Linked DNA regions of Homo sapiens: region 1 is linked to region 2. Evidence: fine-mapped expression QTL. A gene starts in region 2. The other region holds a variant in brackets. All regions are shown on one strand. Distances are from middle to middle. Region 1 overlaps NUP58 (nucleoporin 58). Region 2 holds the start of NUP58 (nucleoporin 58).

Region 1 (5,386 bases), 31 kb after region 2:
GCATGTGTTACCCAGGCCTTCTAAAAAATGTATTTAAAAGTATGTATATTTAGTGCTGACTTTTTTTTCTTTCTTTTTTTTTTAAACTGTTTTAATCAAAAGGCTATGAAAAGGTTGGACATTTGAGGGGAAAGTTTCTTGAAAAACTGGAATATTTATTTTTAAATTCTTTTCATCCATCCATCTGCACATTGATGGAGTATTTAAATATTACTCTGTCTAAAAGCTTAGCTGATTTATTTTAAACAAGGCCTCACAAAGACAGTATTTTAGGAAGCATATTGTAAAGATAGGGAGTAAACTATTCAAGGGAGCAGTAGAACTCTTGAACTCATCATTTCCTACACCAAAGTGCATTATTAGCACTCTAATTTGCAGTTTGGATTGAATGTATAATATTGGGACTGTCTTTGGTAATTTATGGTTATATTCATCCACATATTAACCATAGTCAATGTGAAACTTCATTTAGCCGTTTTGTTTATTATTCTTTTAGGTTCTGAAAGAACAGTACCTTGGCTACAGGAAAATGTTCTTGGGAGATGCTGTTGATGTGTTTGAAACAAGGCGAGCAGAAGCCAAGAAGTGGCAGAACACACCCAGAGTTACTACTGGACCCACTCCTTTCAGCACCATGCCAAACGCAGCAGCCGTTGCCATGGCTGCAACACTTACACAGCAGCAACAGCCTGCTACAGGTCTGAACGCATTCAAGTTATAGCTTCTTACTGTTCCAATGCAGAACATTTATGTGCGTTTTTATAAGTCTTCCATTTGTGTGAGCACTGAAGAAATTTCTATGAGTAGCTGTTCCAATACAATCTAAAATTGTGATGGACACGATTATAAACATACCTGATAAAAAAGGCAGGGTAGTCTTAGCAATAATTATACATCAATTAGATATTGAATATTGTGAATCTACTTAATGTTATTTGCTGTAATGCTATAAATGCCCTTTAGAACATGGTGTTTCACTAGTGAATTACATTTAAGAATAACATTAGATTCTGAAATCATGACTGTACCATTTATTGTTTTAAAGTCAGAGATCATCCATCCATTCTTTGAATTTTTCATATATGATACTGATAGGTGGTGCATTCTCATTTTCCTCATACATAGTGATTACAAAGTACCCACATTCAGGATGAAGTATGCTTTTATTGACTGAAGGTATGTTGAAGATCAATAGGCTTGTTTGTATGTATGTTGACTGTAAACAGAATACAAGCCCTCTAAACCAAATTTTGAAGATGATACATGCTAGAATTGTACCTTTCCAAGGTGAACAGAACAGCAAGAGCAGGAAAAAGATGTTTTGAGATGTGGATTGCACATTAAGGAGCAACTGGGAAGTTGAACAGATGAAAATAATTGGTGACATGGAAAGCAGATTGTTTTATTTCTTGGTTTAGTTACACTTCTAATTAGAGAAACATTTTTTGTGGTCATTCTACAGTGTTTTATTTGGTCCTGTGTCTTTCGGAGGTTAATAGTTATCTTAATCCTGCCATCCCTTTTGTCAGGTTTGAAGCTTGACATGGAAAAATAGTCTTAATCGATATTGATTTTTTTATTTTAATCATTCATAAATTTCTTAGTAATGCTTACTATTCAATAGCATGTGTCTTTCTGAGAGTTCCATATAGTCCAGTAGTACATTATAATACACACAAAAAAATTAATACATATTTAGATTGCATTCAAGCTACCTATACTAGGGAAGCATTCTCTGGTTTTCACTATTGGCAGTTTAAAAAATTGTTCTTCACATTTGGAGATGACAGAATTGACTTGCCATAAGTAAAGGGTTGATGATAGATTTATGCCAAATCCTCCATATCCCGTGGCTGGACCCATGTGAATAGTGGCTCGCACGAGCACTGTCTGGTAGCTCTCTAGCTGGCTGGAGTGTAGGATTGCATTGTTAAGTTATGGAGGGAAAAAGTCATTATGGGATTGATTCCTTTGAGGATTGATATTTCTTCTTAAAAGGATTCAATCCCATAATTATGACCATCAGCTCTCATGATTACCTAACCAGTTAATCAAACCAACCATAGTACTAGTTTACTTTTTAGAGCCAGTATTAATCCTAAAGTAGATAAGTGTAGATTTGGTTAAGTGTTCTTTAAACATAGTGAATTTCCATTCTATTAAATAGAACTTGAGAAATGTCAGTTATATAAAAAGTTATGTTGTAAGTGAATATATTCTATGATAAATACCTAAACTTGAAGCAAAATCTCCTGTCAAGGGTTTGTGTGTGTGTGTGTGTTTAACTTTCTTATCTATAGATTATTATTTTGAGAAATTCATAGGTTTTCACTTATACATTTTGAGCT[T/C]GTGGACATATGGAGATGTGTGTTCATTCTCTAAATGAGTGCCTACTATGTGCTGGGCTCGAGGAATACAAAGGTAGACAATATAGATTTTGTCTTTGCCCTCTGTGGTGGTTGACAATGTTAGCTTAATCTGGAGTATTCTTGAGGAGCCTTTTGCTCATAGGCTTTAATTTTGTCTGTGACTTTTGCCAGGCTTTGGGGAAATTGACTGCCTTCACTCTTCCCTGAAACTTTGAAGTCCACATAAGGGCTTTCTCATCAGATGGCAGAAATTATAATTTATTAACCTAAACAACCTTACAGTGTTTTCGCTTTGAATTGTATGAATTCTTAGAACTGAGAAGCTAAACAACAGTGATAACAATTTTACATTATCTTTTCTTTCTCCTTTTGTTTCTCTAAAGGTCTCCCAGGCCTTCCCAGTCAAAATTTTCGTTATTTTTAGTCATGTCACCATGATGTGAGATTTCTGAGCTCTGTTAGATACATTTAGAAATGTCCCTATTTATCAAATGGTGTTTTGTACCCCATAAGTTATCCCTTATGCCCTGTGACTTCTGTGAAATCTTTGTTTTTAAGTGCCAGTAACAAATTTTAGACCATCTAGATGAGGGTAGAGAGAGCTTATGCATTGTTTTTATACATCACTGTTGATCTATACAAGATTTGAGTTATCAGAAGGGTTTTGCTTTTATTTGCATATGAAATTTTTATTAACATGAATATGGGCACAGAGCAAATAGCTTCTTAGACTGCTGCCTTCTGAAGGTGGCTTCTGTATCTTTCTCAGAGGAGGAGGAATAGACTTAAACGACTTCTTTGTCCTCCTTCAATTTTTTTTTTAATGAAAAAGTATACTAGGGCTTAGGCATGTGTGATTTACAGTTATTTGTTCTGAAGGCTGCAGAGAATTGAAAATCCAGCAGGCTATTTGTGTATGAAATCATGAGCATCGATAACGTGGATAACGTAGTTCCATGTTGGCAGAACTTGACACTTGTCTATAAGTGCTTCCCAAGCCTCCTGAAAAACTGAAGACATTTACATTAGGCTTTTCAGTATAATTTTAATTTAGGATAGGTTTTTTAGCAATGTATCTGGGATTGAGTTTTGCTATTGTGTTTTGACACTTTAAGAGTTCTTGATGTTTACATAATAAGACTTTCTTATGTGACTTAGCTGCTGTTTTAAGGAGAGCCAAGACGTTTTGTTAGGAATTCCTAATTTTTAGCTTAGTGTAGGTTTGGACATTTAAGGTGTAGTGTTAAATAGGAAACATTAAGTATTTCATCTTAGTTTCTTGTGGTTTTGTGATTTTGTTGTATTTAATAACCAAAGGAACATTCCCCATTAAATCAGTAAGAGTAAAATTTTTCAAACTGGGGAAAACGCATTTTAGGTTTTTTAAAGAAAAATTATTTTAAAATGTGACTTAGAAATAACCATACTAATTACATTAGGCATTTGGGGTGATCATGGAAAATTATAAAATATTTTTAGCACTTTAGTCCTTTTTCTGTTAATGCAGTTTTACTTTTAAGAAAGTAAAATTTATTCTGGAAAATATGAATTACAGCGCTAAACCTGGTTTTGTTGTGTGTGAATATATTATATGGTAACTTTTGTAAAATGTTACTCTACATGAAGATTTCACTTTGGCCAGTCATTGGTATATATCACTACAAACTTAATTTTATTTATGGAAATAAGAACCTCTCATTGGATGACTATTCAAATTTCAAAGCAGACTTCTTGAATTGTTTACGTAACTTTTGCCTGAAGGATTTAGACTGCTTTCTAATAGTGAAACTAATATATATGGTGGCCAGAGTGTAATATATGCTAATACTTTGGCATGGGAGATATTTATCATGAGTTTTTACTATTAAAAAATGTTATACATTTGCCTACGAGTTTTATAAATGATGTTGCCTTCAGAATTTGTGTGAAGGTACAAAACTAAAAATATCATGTATCTGATGTGCAATGGAAAGTCTTGTCATCATTAGATATGAGTTCTTGATTATATTCTGAATATTGATGATTAGAAAAATCTTATGTTCTGTTGCTCTTAACAACAGACCCACACACAACAAAAAGCATGCTATTTGAGTAACTCTTACGACTTACAAGGCTGAGGGCTGTGGTGTGCATTATTCTTTAGGGTCTTCCACCAGCAGTGCCTCCTATTAACCTGTGACAAACAAGTCTCTCAATGTTAAAGAACTGGACATGTGTTTTTTATGTTTTTTGTTAGGAATCAGAAAGTATAATAATATGCTTGGTTTCTTTTTCCTATAGTAACATTTTACAAAAGAGCTGCTAGGCAGGTATTTTATTCTCAAAGTGATCTCAAACTGGATGTAAAATTTTAAATTATTTTTTTAATAGTAGTATAAGAATTCTGGCTGCTATTAGTTATTGTTTGTTTTCTGGGTTAGAAGCTATTCGAAAAGTCCAGTTTCTGTCCCAGTGTAGCAAAATGTAGTTCCTCGGTTGTTTTTCTTTAAATGCTTTATAATTTTACACTACCTTTTTAATATACAAACCTCATTCTTCATTGGATAACTTGAAGGCTTTGATTTCTTTAAAAATTTAAATTTTAGTGTGTATATTACTTTGACAGTTCCCTCATCTTTGAGATGCACTGATCACTGTGCTTGAAAAAGACAATACTGAAGATTGTACTATGAAGTTTATTGAATAATTTTCATAAATTATTTATCCAAATGAGAGATTTTTAGATTTTTGTATTCTGCTTAGTTTTAAAAAAAAAAAATAGTAGTTTAAAAGAGAGGCTAGTAAGTTTGATGCTATTCTTGCCAAACAAACTCAGCCAAAATCTTTAAAGTAACAAGAGGGAAAAGGATGACTAATCGTTCTGCTTCTGAGTACATTTTCCAAAACGTTGGAAAGAAACTTCTGAATTGAAATCTTGAATGTATTGAATCTGTCAAGGTACACAGCGGTGCCTTTGTAAATGTTCATTACTTTATTTAATCAGGTGATAAGTGGTGTAATGTAGCAGAGCTTAAGAA
Region 2 (5,386 bases):
CATAGGGAGTGCCTTTCTATCTTCCCATAAAAATCATCAGGATCTTTTTTTTTTTCAGTCAAAAGGAAGTCTCCTAGACTTTATGTGAACAATCCTCTTACTGACCACCCTATAGCCATCACTGAAAATAGCTTTCTCTATATCACCGAAGCTTTAAAACTCACAACAATCTTTTATTTTTGCCTCCTGTTCGATAACTATGAAGTTTTTATTTATATCTTAATCCAAATATATCCCTTTTTTCTTTTTTATCATTCCCATTATGACTTCTATGACGTTTAAAATGTTATGGCCGGGCACAGTGGCTTACGCCTGTAATCCCAGCACTTTGGGAGGCCGAGGTGGGCAGATCGCTTGAGGCCAGGAGTTCAAGACCAGCCTGGCCAACATGGTGAAAACCCATCTCTACTGAAAAATACAGAAATTAACCGGGCGTGGTGGCGTGCGCCTGTGATCCCAGTTACTTGGGAGGCTGAGGCAGGAGAATCGCTTGAACTCAGGAGACGGAGGTTGCAGTGAGCCGAGATGGCACCACTGTATTCCAGCCTGGGCAACAGAGCGAGACTCTGTCTCAAAATAAAGTAAAATATAAATTAAATTTAAAAAACAAAATAAAATGTACGTTTCTTTTTAATTATACAAACACAGAGGTGGTGTATTAGTCTGCTTGGCTGATACAACAAAATACCATAGACTGAGGTGGCTATAACAACAGACATTTACTTCTCTCAATTCTGGAGGCTAAGTCCCAGATAAAGATGGGGCAGTTTGGGTTCCAGGTGAAAGCCCCTTCTTGCTCTGTCCTCACATGGCACACAGAGGAGAACAAGCTCTTCGTTGTTTTTTCTCATAAGGGCACTAATCTCGCCATGGGCGACCCACCAAGGTGACCTCATCTAAATTGAATTACCTCCCAAAGGCTCCATCTCCAAATACCAACATATTGGGGTGGGGTAGGGCTTTAACATATGGATTGGGGGAGGAGGGAAATAGTTCAGTCCACAGCTGGTGGCAATGCCCAAGCTCAACGGAAGATTAAAGTACTGAATTAGGGAGAACTGTGAGATGAGGTTAGAAAGACTAATCATACGGAGGTCATCAAGTGCCAAACTAAAGAGCCACTGGGCTTTTTAGATCATAAATCCGGGGGTTGCTTATGGGATGGATTTTGTTAGAGATCACGAGTAGGAAAACCATTTGGGGGAGTAATGTAACAATCCCTGAGGGAAAAATAAAAACTAACACTATGATGACAACCCTCGAATGCACCACCACCAGGAAGCCTTTCCTGATGCTTCGCCAGAGAGGTTCTCTTTAAACGCGAATTTTTCTTGAGTTATCCTAGAAATGTAAGTTACACCTCACATTTCGCCTTCTTTCGTACATGTTCCTGTGCGTTTCCTAATCCTTCCACTTTGTAGTTCCTCCAGCACCGGTTGTGTCCGAGGGCCCTTCTGGCGGAGCCACACTCGCTCGGCCCAAGGTCCCGCCCTCCAGCATCAGGATGCACGGACAGTATTTGTGGACTTGACCGCATCCCAGGAAATCCAGCGGGCCTGGCCACTTCTGGGCGCCAGGACCACAGCCGGCCACCCCACGGACGCCTGGGACGCTCTTCTGGGCCCCCTTCGGGGCTGGGCGTCGGGCTCGCAACAACTGCGACCAACTGGCTCCGCGAGGCCTGGGGCGCAGGGGTGGGGCTCACGTCGTGGGACGGTTGCATGGATTATTTTCGATTGATTTCCGAACCTTCAGGAAGCAGACACGCTCCCCTTCCTTCTTAGGGATGGGGCGGCAGCCAACGAAAGCCCGAAGCCGCCTCCTTTTCTGAGTGGGGAGCTTAGAGATGCTCAGGAGGGACCTCCCCGATTCTGCGATTCTGAGCATCAATTTTGGCAGGAGGCTAGATAGAAGTAGCAATTGACATTCATCACCCTAAAGTGCGGATTATGTCAGTACAGATGCTACGATAGAAGAACTAAAAAATGACAGAAATGGTTTTACTGTTTTTAAACTCTGGGAGCCTACTCCTTTAAGAGATTAGGCAGTACGCCTATTCTCGCCTGGTCCCAGCGTACCTTGCGCGGCTCGCCGTCCCCCACTCACGTACCAGGGCTCATTGCGTGACGGTTACACTTCCGGCGGGCTACGTGCGCGCGGCGAGCGCCGGGCGTACTTTTGCGTGGTTGCTCCACCCCCTCAGCCTTGCCTTCGCCGCCGTTGGGGCTGGAAGTTCCCGCCAGGTCCGTGCCGGGCGAGAGAGATGCTGCCCGGCCCGCCTCGGCTTTGAGGCGAGAGAAGTGTCCCAGACCCATTTCGCCTTGCTGACGGCGTCGAGCCCTGGCCAGACATGTCCACAGGGTTCTCCTTCGGGTCCGGGACTCTGGGCTCCACCACCGTGGCCGCCGGCGGGACCAGCACAGGCGGCGTTTTCTCCTTCGGAACGGGAGCGTCTAGGTAACCGCACTTTCTCGCCTTCCTGGGCCGGATTCACCCCCACCCCCACCCCCGCAAAGCTCCCTTGGTGTCCCCATCCTGTCTCTTCCCTCTGGCTTCCTTCCCAGTGGGGCTGGAGAGAAGCACTTAATCTAGCCGCCCGGCGTCGTAGGCCTCTCGCCGCGGTACCCGGGCCCAGCGCGGCCTGGTGAAGTGGAGGGCGGGATGGGTTCTGTGCTGTGAGGTTTCCAGAATCCACGTATAGTTCAGGCATTATTTGGACCTAGTGGGGTCTTGACTGCGTGGAAGGGCCTTGGGGTCTACCCCGGAGCTTTAGCGATGTGTCAGTCTTAGGCATAGAATGAACATTGAATGAATGAATGAAATTATAGCATACTGTGGAGTTTTATGATAGATAATTCCGATTTCATTGCAGCATTTGCGGTTTTGGATATGACGGTGTTTTAATAACTTTGTGGTTTTTAACCAGCTTTTCAAGCTTTTGTGCCACATGGGACCTTATCTGTTTTTGTTAAAAAAAACAAAAACACTTTTTTACAGTGTTTATTAGTGGTAATTTTCTGCAGTATGTGCAGATTAGTATATCTGATGCGAGAATGTTGTGTTGTAATAACTCAATTTGTCTTTTACTTAAATTACAAAACGTAGGTAGCATGTTCCTTGTTTTTGTGCAACCCATTAGTTCAGGTGGCGACAAAAACATAACTATCCAGAAAGAAACAAAGTGGTGAGACATTTTAATGAGAGATTTAAGCTTTAGAACTCAATTTTTTTTAAGATAAAGGTGGAGGGGTTCATAAAGTTAAGGAGTGTGCACACTGTCAACAAGATACTTCCTGAAGCTTAAAAGATGTGGCTGTAGATTTAAAAGGCAAATACTTAAGCATGACCTGCAGTTTAAAAAGGGAGGGAGGAGGAACCACGGACTACACAGTCAATTCAGAAATTTGAATTTTCATCCATACCTCCGTTATTCTTACTCTACTCGCTCAACAACAGGTTCTGATAATGTTACTTCTGCCATTTCTGTTTGTCTTTATTTCCAGTTCCACAACCCTGCTTAGGCTATTGTCATTCGTGGAACAAATATTTATTGGACAGATTCCCATGTGCAAGGCTCTGTTTTAGGTATTAAGAGTCTTGCTCTCTTGATCCTTACATTCTTATGAAAATAATTTTGATTCTTGTCAGATTTTTAACCAGCTGTCTTTCTTGTTTTAGATGAAAACTACTCCAATCAACTTCTTCAATCTGTTCTGCCACATTTTAGCCAGAGTAATTGAAAAACAAAATTCCCATTGCTCTCTCTTTAATCATTACCCGCCATCGTTAGAATGAAGTTTAAAAAAGAAAAAAAAACTTACCATAGTCTGCAAGGTCCACTTCTGCTGGAACCTCTGGGGACTCATCTTGAGCGGGACTCATCTTGAGCCCATCTTTTTATTTTAGCTATGCAGACCCACTGTTAAAAACAAACACACAACTACCACCCTAAATAACTGAAATGAAGTTTCAGAGAAAGATACCCTTACTTCATGGGATGCACTTTGATATTTTCTATTTCTTTTTTTTTTTAATGTTGCTTATGACTTGATGAATTAATTTTTATATTTCTCTCATGGTCCTGATCTTAGAAAGCCTGTCCTAGCAACATGGCCTTTTCTCTTTTCAAGTGGGCTTTGCCAGCCCCTTCCTTGCAAATATCAAATGGTCTCTTCCCCAGAGAGGCCTTTTCTGACCTGTCAGTCTAGGGGAGATTTCCATTCTCCTAGTACTCTTAGAGTGCTGATCACAATTGTAATCAGTTTGTTATATTTATTGTTAACTTGTTTGTTGTCAGATCTCAGCACTAGAATAATTAATACCTATGTCTCTCACTGACTAGAAACTGCCTGAGGGCAAGGTCTGAGTCTTAATTTCCCACCTCATTGTCAGTCCCAAGGACAGTGCCTGGCATAGAAAAAGGGCTTTAATAACAATTTGAATGACTGAGCAAATGAGTTATTAGTAATAAGCTATAAAAAATTACCCAAGTTTTAGAGAGGCTTGGATAAATTAATGAAAGAGGAGACTGTCCGACATAAATTTGTTAGAGTGCTGGTTGGGAGGCCTGACAGCCCCTAGTGCCACCTAGTGATTTGATGTCTTGAGGTTGGTCATTTTAGGGGAGTTCTCACATCTGGAAAAGGAGTATAATATATTACCTGAGTTGATGAGTGAGATGAAGTATTTAAATATTTAGCATCAAGTCTGGCACTTGCTAAGTGCTCAGTAAATCTTAGCTATTATGTTAGCTACCAAGTCTGCATTAGGGCAAGCTGGGCAAGTTAAAATAACATTCCAGATGTGATTGAGTCAAGTTGGCTTTTCTACAGTACATCCTATCAAGTCCTTGGCAGATAACATTGGTTTGAGGCAATAATTGGTCAAGTTTAGGGTAGCTTTTGCTTTTCTTGAATTTAGTAAATTTCACTGCCACCAAAATTTCTCTCTTGCTTTTGTGGTAGAGAAAAATTTCATTTTGATGTGTTTCTTTGGCAGTATTTTCAACTTTCATTATGTAATACTTCATAATGTCTTCAGTTATGTTGTCAAGATTATATATATATATATATATATATATATATATATATATATGTATTTTTTTTTTTTTTTAAGACAGTCTCACTCTTGTTACCCAGCCTGGAGTGCAATGGCGTGATCTTGGCTCATTGCAACCTCCACCTTACGGGTTCAAGCAATTCTCCTGCCTCAGCCTCCCAAATAGCTGGGATTACAGGCACGCCACCACACCCGGCTAAATTTTTTATTTTTATTTTTGGTATTTTTAGTAGAGATGGGGTTTCACCATGTTGGCCAGGCTGGTCTCAAACTCCTGACTTCAGGTGATCCATCCACCTTGGCATCCCAAGGTGCTGGGATTACAGGC

Evidence for each region. PIP is the estimated chance that this variant, and not a neighbour inherited with it, causes the effect.
Region 1: its variant is the best candidate, but not a certain one, in a credible set for the expression of NUP58 in thyroid (GTEx, PIP 0.54).

Annotation. Positions count from the first base shown.
Region 1 is chr13:25,330,861-25,336,246 of GRCh38, forward strand. NUP58 (nucleoporin 58) reads left to right here. Exons shown (of 16, transcript NM_014089.4): 13 at 497-698. Among named protein-coding and RNA genes, the nearest start is that of NUP58, 32 kb to the left of the region's middle. The variant T/C (reference allele first, on the strand shown) is at 2,349.
Region 2 is chr13:25,299,424-25,304,809 of GRCh38, forward strand. It overlaps NUP58 (nucleoporin 58), which reads left to right and starts at 2,202. Exons shown (of 16, transcript NM_014089.4): 1 at 2,202-2,457. The coding sequence starts at 2,351. RefSeq lists enhancers at 1,858-2,097, 2,258-2,337, 2,448-2,497.